Homo sapiens: one gene and its partner. The protein of the gene in region 1 interacts with the protein of each later gene in a pairwise test. Each region holds a gene or a part of one and is shown on either strand. Other genes may lie near its edges.

Region 1 (3,744 bases):
ATCCACTCCCTCCTCTTGCCCACCCCCTCCTCCATGGTTCCTGGCTCCAGGGAAACCTGAGACTGTGGCCCTCGCCTCTGCTGAGCGCCACCCTTGGACACAGGTCGTGGGGTCCTCACTGCTTACCTGGGCTCTCTGCACCATGTCCCTTCCTAAAGGAGGAATGAGGGAAAGGAGACCATCGGGACTGCAGACCAGGCCATGCCTCGGCCTCTCTGCTAGACACTCACAGGCCCCATCCCAGGAGGGCAGGCTCTGTGGGGAAGTGGATCACAGTCCCGAGAGCCTCGCAATCCTGAAATATCAAAACCCCTCAAATCTAAAATCCCAAAAAATATAATTCTAGAAAAAATAAAATTCTGTAAAAGATATTTATTTACTTTTTAAAAATTGTTTTGAGAAGGAGCCTTGCTCTGTCATCCAGGCTGGAGTGCAATTGTGCGATCTCGGCTCACTGCAACCTCCGCCTCCTGGGTTCAAGCGATTCTCCTGCCTTAGCCTCCCGGGTAGCTGGGATTACAGGCATGTGCCACCACGCCTGGCTAATTTTTGTATTTTTAGTAGAGACTGGGCATCACCATGTTGGCCAGGCTGGTCTCGAACTCCTGACCTCAGGTGATCCACCCGCCTCGGCCTCCCAAAGTGCTGGGATTACAGGAATGAGCCACCTCGCCCAGCCTATTTACATATTTTAAAGGGATTTATTTGAGAAACATAAAAACACGACGGAACCCTTCATTGGCCGATAAAATAGACAAAAATAACATACATATTTTTTCAAGCACAAATTCATGCACGCTAGCGACAGGCTCACGGGTGTGAGAACTACGAGCAGATGAACAGTGCTCATGAGGAGCTAGGTCAGAAGGGGTAAGACGTAGGTGCGTAGACTCTGGCTGGTGACTGTGTGCACCTGGCTTTATAACTGGTCATCAAAACACCAAGATGAACAACCCACCTTCTAACAAGATCCATCAAAGGCTTCAGGGACCACCACATACGCAGTCGCCCAGAGAGCCCGGATCTGGAGATATTTTACCTTTCAGAAAGGCAGATGAACGAAAAAGCCATCTCTTCCTTTACTGAAGAGTCCCAGCATTCGGGATTATGGCTGTGGGACTGTCCCTTTCTGGATTACGATCCAGACCCCTCTGGGGCAGCCTCTCCTTCACATCGGCGCGGGAAGCCCGCCTGGAGGAGAGGCCTCTCCGGCAGGCGCTGGGGAGCTCCCAGCAAGGCTTGGAAGGAGGCTCAGAGTTTGGAGGGGGAGCCCCCATGGGGTGGGGGGCCTGAGAAGCAGGAGGGAAATAACCAGGGCTCTCTGCACGGTTCAGAAGAGAGGCTTGGGGGCGGGCAGGGGCCCAGGAAGCTGAGTCTGAGCTGGGAAAATGGTGGAGCCCCAGCACACAGTGACCCCCACACCCACTCAGCACACATGTGCATGGACCCCTGGCCCACCAGACCTGAGTGTGCAGACCTAGGCACCGCACTGCCCTCCCTCAGGTCTCCTTGGAACCAGGTGTTGGGGGCGGCTCGAGCGGGGCTGGTGTGAAAGCTGCCTAACCACAGCCCCATCTCCGCCCTGTGCTGCTGAGGGGACCCCGGCTGCCCACAGGTTCCAGGAGGCTCTGTCTGACTTCTGGCTGGCCCTGGAGCAGCTGAGGGGCCACGCTGCCATCGACTACACGCAGCTGGGCCTGCGGTTCAAGCTGCAAGCCTGGGAGGTGAGGCCGGGCAGGGCTCACTGTGCTGCTGGCTGTGGGGTGTCCACGGGCGGTGGCACTGTCACAGGAGGGCCCTGTGGACTGGGGAGCGCCTCTGGCCGAAGCTCTTGGTGCCATGGAATACCCTGGCCACTCCTTGACCCGCAGGAGGTTCTGGTGGCAGTGGAGGTGGAGGGACCATTTTGTGCCATTTCAGGCCACCAGGGGTGGCTCCACCCAGAAGGAGGGCAGAGGCGAAAGGCTGCTGGGTGGGCAGGGAGCAGGCAGGGGGTTGTGCCCACCCTCCACTGTGCCCCCAGCCCTTTCCTGGCTGCCTGGAACGTGTTGGCACCGAAGGAGGGGTGCTGAGAGGCCCCCCCACCAGACCCCGGAAATGCATCGCCCTGAAGCCTTCTGGGAATAGCATTGTCTTTTAGGACAAAAAGATGGAAGGGAAAGCCCACTGGTGTGGGTCTGGAGTCAGGGTTAAAGCCAGGTGGGGGCCCGCCAGCCCAGGACACAGAACGGTGCAGGGGAGGGGCCGGGTGGGGGGATTGGGAGAGGAGCTGGGTGGGGAGACGGGGGAGAAGCCAGGTGGGGGGACTGGGGGAGAGGCTGGGTGGGGGGATGGGGGAGGGGCCAGGTGGGGGGACTGGGGGAGGGGCTGGGTGGGCAGACCGAGGGAGGAGCTGGGTGGGGGAACCGGGAGAGGGCCTGGGTGGGGCATCAGGCCCCTGCCATCACCTTGGCCCCACTCCCAGGTGCTACACAATGTGGCGTCGGCACAGTGCCAGCTGGGGCTCTGGACAGAGGCGGCCAGCAGCCTAAGGGAGGCCATGTCCAAGTGGCCGGAGGGGTCCCTGAATGGCCTGGACTCAGCCCTGGACCAAGTGCAGGTGAGGAGTGCCAGCCCGGTCATGGTTTTGGGCTGGTGCCTACCAAAGCTCCTCAAGACCAATTTCATGAGATGAAGAAGCTTCCGGAGGGAGATGGCCCTAGTGCCCAGTTTCGGGTGCCAGGCGGGGGCTTCCTGTGACCTGCGGGAAGGGGGTGGGGGGCCCAAGCGGCCCCTTCTGCTCCAAGGCACAGGGGCTCTGCGGCTGCAGGCCTGGTTGGTCACCCCGTCTGCATCTGCTGGATACCCACCCCCTCCAGAGACGGGGCTCACTGCCGCCACGGCAGGTCCCCAGGGGCGAGGTCTTCCGGCCCCACCGGTGGCACCTGAAGCACTTGGAGCCCGTGGATTTCCTGGGCAAGGCCAAGGTAAAGGTGGGGACGGCGTCCTGGGGCATGGCGGCTGGTGCTGAGCCCTCGAACTGTGTTCCCAGGGATGGGGGGAGGTGCAGTCCAGGCCACCGTAAGGGCCAGGAGGGTAGAGAGTGGGCCCACAGCCATCCTCAAACTGGCGCCCACGGTAGGGGGGCGGTGCCCCAAATGGGGCTGTGAGCTTGAAGGCAGAGCCCACTAGAGCCGGCTGCATAGGAGGGGGCTCCAGCTCTCTCAACAAGGACCCTGCAGGTGCCACCCCGCCCCCAGACTGGGCCATGGCCACAGCCACAGCCTTGCAGCCTCCCAGAGTCCCTGCGTCTCTCTGCGTCCTTTCATGCCTTTGTGTCTCCCTGTGTCCCTGCCACAGACAGCGAGGTCCCGGGGGGGTCCCTGCGTCCCTGCCACAGATAGCGAGGTCCCGGGGGGGTCCCTGCGTCCCTGCCACAGATAGCGAGGTCCCGGGGGGGGGGGGTCCCTGCGTCCCTGCCACAGATAGCGAGGTCCTGGGGGGATGCCTGTGTGCCTGCCACAGATAGCGAGGTCCCCGGGGGGGTGCCTGTGTCCCTGCCACAGACAGCGAGGTCCCAGGGGGGTGCCTGTGTCCCTGCCACAGGTAGCGAGGTCCCGGGGGGGGTGCCTGTGTCTCTGCCACAGCTAGCGAGGTCCCGGGGGGCGGGGGTGCCTGTGTCCCTGCCACAGATAGCGAGGTCCCGGGGGGTCTCCCTGTGTCCCTGCCACAGATAGCGAGGTCCCTGGGGGGGTCCCTGTGTCC
Region 2 (3,744 bases), on another chromosome or scaffold:
AGGGACGTCTCCCCAGCTCCTGCGACACGCGTGAAATTGGCCCGGACCTGCCTCCTGAGAGGCTTTTCCCAGAAATGTCTTGTTAAAGCCTTTGTAAAGGAATCAGTGTTTACTTGCGCCGGGAGAGCTCCGGCCCTGGGTCCTGGCAGGCGGCGGATTTCTGAGCTGCTGGAGAGCAACCCGGGAAAGCAAAATCAGCCTTGGACTGTCGGGGCCCCTGGGGCTCCTTGCTCCTTATCGAAAGCGAGTTATTAGATAGACCCCCACAGTCCCATTCAGCAGAATGGGAAACTGGACTCAGACACCTTTTGCCCTCCCCACAGGGAGGCCACGCCGTGCGGCTTTGACCACTGATCTCCCACCCGGAGTGCCCGACGCCCAGGGTCCTGCCACCGGGCAGCCTCGGTCAGTCCACAGTTGTGGCTCCTTCCAGGGCCTGGACTAGGGTGAGCACAAGCCTTGAGCGCAACATTTAAGAAGGGCGCCGAAAAGTCAGTAATCAAAAGAAATATCTTGATGCAATGCCTCTTTAAAAGAAAAAAAAATGCAAAAAATCCATGATGAATAAAATACTAAATTTTAAAAAGAGAAAGGATCCGTGCAGTGCCATCGTAAGCCATTTTGGAGCCCGGAGCAAAAGGAAATATCACCTTGCCCAAGCGGTGCCCCTACAGCTCATCCGAGTAGGGCCCGGGGGTCGAGGCATTCGGGGCCCAGTGGGGGACGAGGCCAGTCGAAGGTCTCGGAAGTGGAGGCTCCGCCGAGCTCCGGTCGGGGAGTGCAGGGATGGCCCCCGGGACCGGAGGTGAGAGCTCGGGAAAGCCGCTCCGCCCGGAACAAAGGCATGGGGAGAGGGTGAGCTTGGGCGGGAGAGACCCGGCGGGTACCGGTGCCCTCGCTGCCTGGGTCGGGCTTCCACGCGCGCCCCGGAATGGAATACGCTACTCTGCAGCCTCCGAAACTGCGAGCGAGTCCTGTAACTCCCTTGCTCTGTGATTAATTCTCACTAACAAGACTTGGCAAGATGTCGGGCGAATGATTTTTGGCTTCTGCACGGTCCCCACCGCGTGCGTGCACAAACCCCCAGCCAAAAGCCGCCTCTGGGAAATTAAATGCAAAAGAGAAATGGGGATGGGGAGGGCTGCTACGTGACCAGGAAAAAGGGATGCCCAGAAACATGAATCGGACCCAGAGCTGCTGAAGTCCTTTCAAAAGGTCATTCTTTGCGGGTACATTTTCCAGGGTCCAGCTCCGCAACAAATGTGGACCCTGTCATTTCCTGAAAGGATAATTCACAACTATGCAAGATAGGGTGAAGACGTTTCCCAAACCCGAAAACCTTGTTTTTCCCCCGACCAGGGTTAAATAAACATCTTTTAGGAAGCGTGGACAGGAGCGCAGCCTGCTCTCCTCCCTCGGAACACCATTCCGGCAATTAATGCCTCCCTTTGGGTAGTAAAGCAACAAACCCCACACCTCACTCCGATCCTGGGCTTCGGGCGGGAGGACTTTCTCTTTCATCTTCCAAGCAGGGGGTTGCCCACGTTCTTGGGGAAGCTATAAAACTGATTTAATGGCTTTAGATGAAAATCGATCACGCTAATGCATACGCTAACGTCTCAGGAATCGCATATTCAGAAAGGACTGGCCGGGCCGAAAGCGCACGGGGAGTCTGGGGCTAGGAGGTGTCAGGCCCCGCTGGGTGGGCAGCAGCGCTCCGGTCCCCTCTCCACTTGGGTAACCGGGAAAAACCTACGGGGCTGTCACGCGGGGAAGCGCGAAGGTGCCAAGGGATGAAAGCTCAAACCCGAGCCCTGGCCTCCTCAGCCGGCTATTTCCTTTGGCGCCGCCCGCCTAGCGGCGGGGTGCAGCGGCGGCACAGGTGCCGGTGTCGGGCTGGAGGCGCGGCGCAGGCTGGGCCCGCGGGTAGACGGCGAAAGGCGCCGCGCGCTCCATTCACAAAGTCCGGGCGCTGCCCGCCGCTGGCGGCGGGTCGGAGGCCGCCTCCCTCTTCCTCTCGGCCTCGGTTTTATGAATGGGCCTGATGGCGAGCACCCGGCGCCCTGTTTACTCCGCTCTTTGTGACGTCGAGTTCCCGTGACCGGGAGCCAGCGGCCGCGCTCCATTCAAGCTCCGGGGAGGGGGTGGGAGGAGGGGCCCGGAGGGGGCGGGGAGTCAGCGCGGGGGGCGGGGGACAGCGCGGGGGGCGGGGGACGGCGCGGGGCCCGGAATGGAACGGGGCGGGGCCTGGCGGGGTAGTACCTAGCGCCCCCTCCCCCGGGAGCGCGGAGGAGCATTAATAAACCTCTAAGCCGAGGAGAAAACTCTGGCTGGGGCAGTGCGCTGAGCGCCGGAGGAGCGTAGGCAGGGCAGCGCTGGCGCCAGTGGCGACAGGAGCCGCGCGACCGGCAAAAATACACGGGAGGCCGTCGCCGAAAAGAGTCCGCGGTCCTCTCTCGTAAACACACTCTCCTCCACCGGCGCCTCCCCCTCCGCTCTGCGCGCCGCCCGGCTGGGCGCCCGAGGCCGCTCCGACTGCTATGTGACCGCGAGGCTGCGGGAGGAAGGGGACAGGGAAGAAGAGGCTCTCCCGCGGGAGCCCTTGAGGACCAAGTTTGCGGCCACTTCTGCAGGCGTCCCTTCTTAGCTCTCGCCCGCCCCTTTCTGCAGCCTAGGCGGCCCGGGTTCTCTTCTCTTCCTCGCGCGCCCAGCCGCCTCGGTTCCCGGCGACCATGGTGACGATGGAGGAGCTGCGGGAGATGGACTGCAGTGTGCTCAAAAGGCTGATGAACCGGGACGAGAATGGCGGCGGCGCGGGCGGCAGCGGCAGCCACGGCACCCTGGGGCTGCCGAGCGGCGGCAAGTGCCTGCTGCTGGACTGCAGACCGTTCCTGGCGCACAGCGCGGGCTACATCCTAGGTTCGGTCAACGTGCGCTGTAACACCATCGTGCGGCGGCGGGCTAAGGGCTCCGTGAGCCTGGAGCAGATCCTGCCCGCCGAGGAGGAGGTACGCGCCCGCTTGCGCTCCGGCCTCTACTCGGCGGTCATCGTCTACGACGAGCGCAGCCCGCGCGCCGAGAGCCTCCGCGAGGACAGCACCGTGTCGCTGGTGGTGCAGGCGCTGCGCCGCAACGCCGAGCGCACCGACATCTGCCTGCTCAAAGGTAAACGAGGGCTCCGGGCGCTAGCTGGAGTCGGGGAGATGGAGGGGGTCTTGGCGGCCTGCGCCTTATTGGCACGGGAAGGAGTCCCCGGCGTGATTCGTGGTTGCGGGGATCCCCGCGCGCCCCTTTGTGTGTGTTGGTGTGTAGGGGTTTGCAAGGTTTCTGTGCAAGTGCGAGGTTCAAGTCCTCAGGGAAAGTGCGGACGGGTTTCTCCGGTCACCTGCAATTCCGCACCGTCCTAGCGAGGCCCCGTTTATTGACATTAACGGTCCTAGCCTCGAGGATGAAGCGACTCCTCTGCGCGGTCCATCTTGAGTCCCGGGAACAGTTTCCAAGTACCACGGGGCGCGTGGGGACAAGATAGGCCTGTTGGTTTGGCGTGCTGGGGCCCTACACTGAGCCGGACCGGGAGAATCCCAGAGGTGGAGAAAAGGTGAAGAGGGGTGGGCGCCGAGGTACAATTGGCCTTGCCAGTTTCACTGAAAACAAGACCCTGGCAAATGCAGAAAGGGAGATTGGGTTGCACACACTGTGTAGAGCGATCTGTATCTGCGTTCCCGCTGCCCAACTCCAAGCTCA

Evidence for each region. Proteins that work in one complex are often made in the same cells at the same time.
Region 2: the proteins of NOXA1 (region 1) and DUSP4 interact in binary tests that used the Homo sapiens proteins (3 or more experiments, as listed by UniProt).

What each region holds. Positions count from the first base shown.
Region 1 is NC_000009.12:137,426,418-137,430,161, forward strand, and holds part of NOXA1 (NADPH oxidase activator 1), read left to right. Parts: exon of another isoform or gene 1-1,615; coding exon 1,616-1,724; intron 1,725-2,023; exon of another isoform or gene 2,024-2,199; intron 2,200-2,464; coding exon 2,465-2,599; intron 2,600-2,858; coding exon 2,859-2,966; intron 2,967-3,744.
Region 2 is NC_000008.11:29,349,267-29,353,010, reverse strand, and holds the start of DUSP4 (dual specificity protein phosphatase 4), read left to right. Parts: upstream 1-2,326; 5' UTR 2,327-2,732; coding exon 2,733-3,165; intron 3,166-3,744. UniProt on the Homo sapiens protein: Regulates mitogenic signal transduction by dephosphorylating both Thr and Tyr residues on MAP kinases ERK1 and ERK2.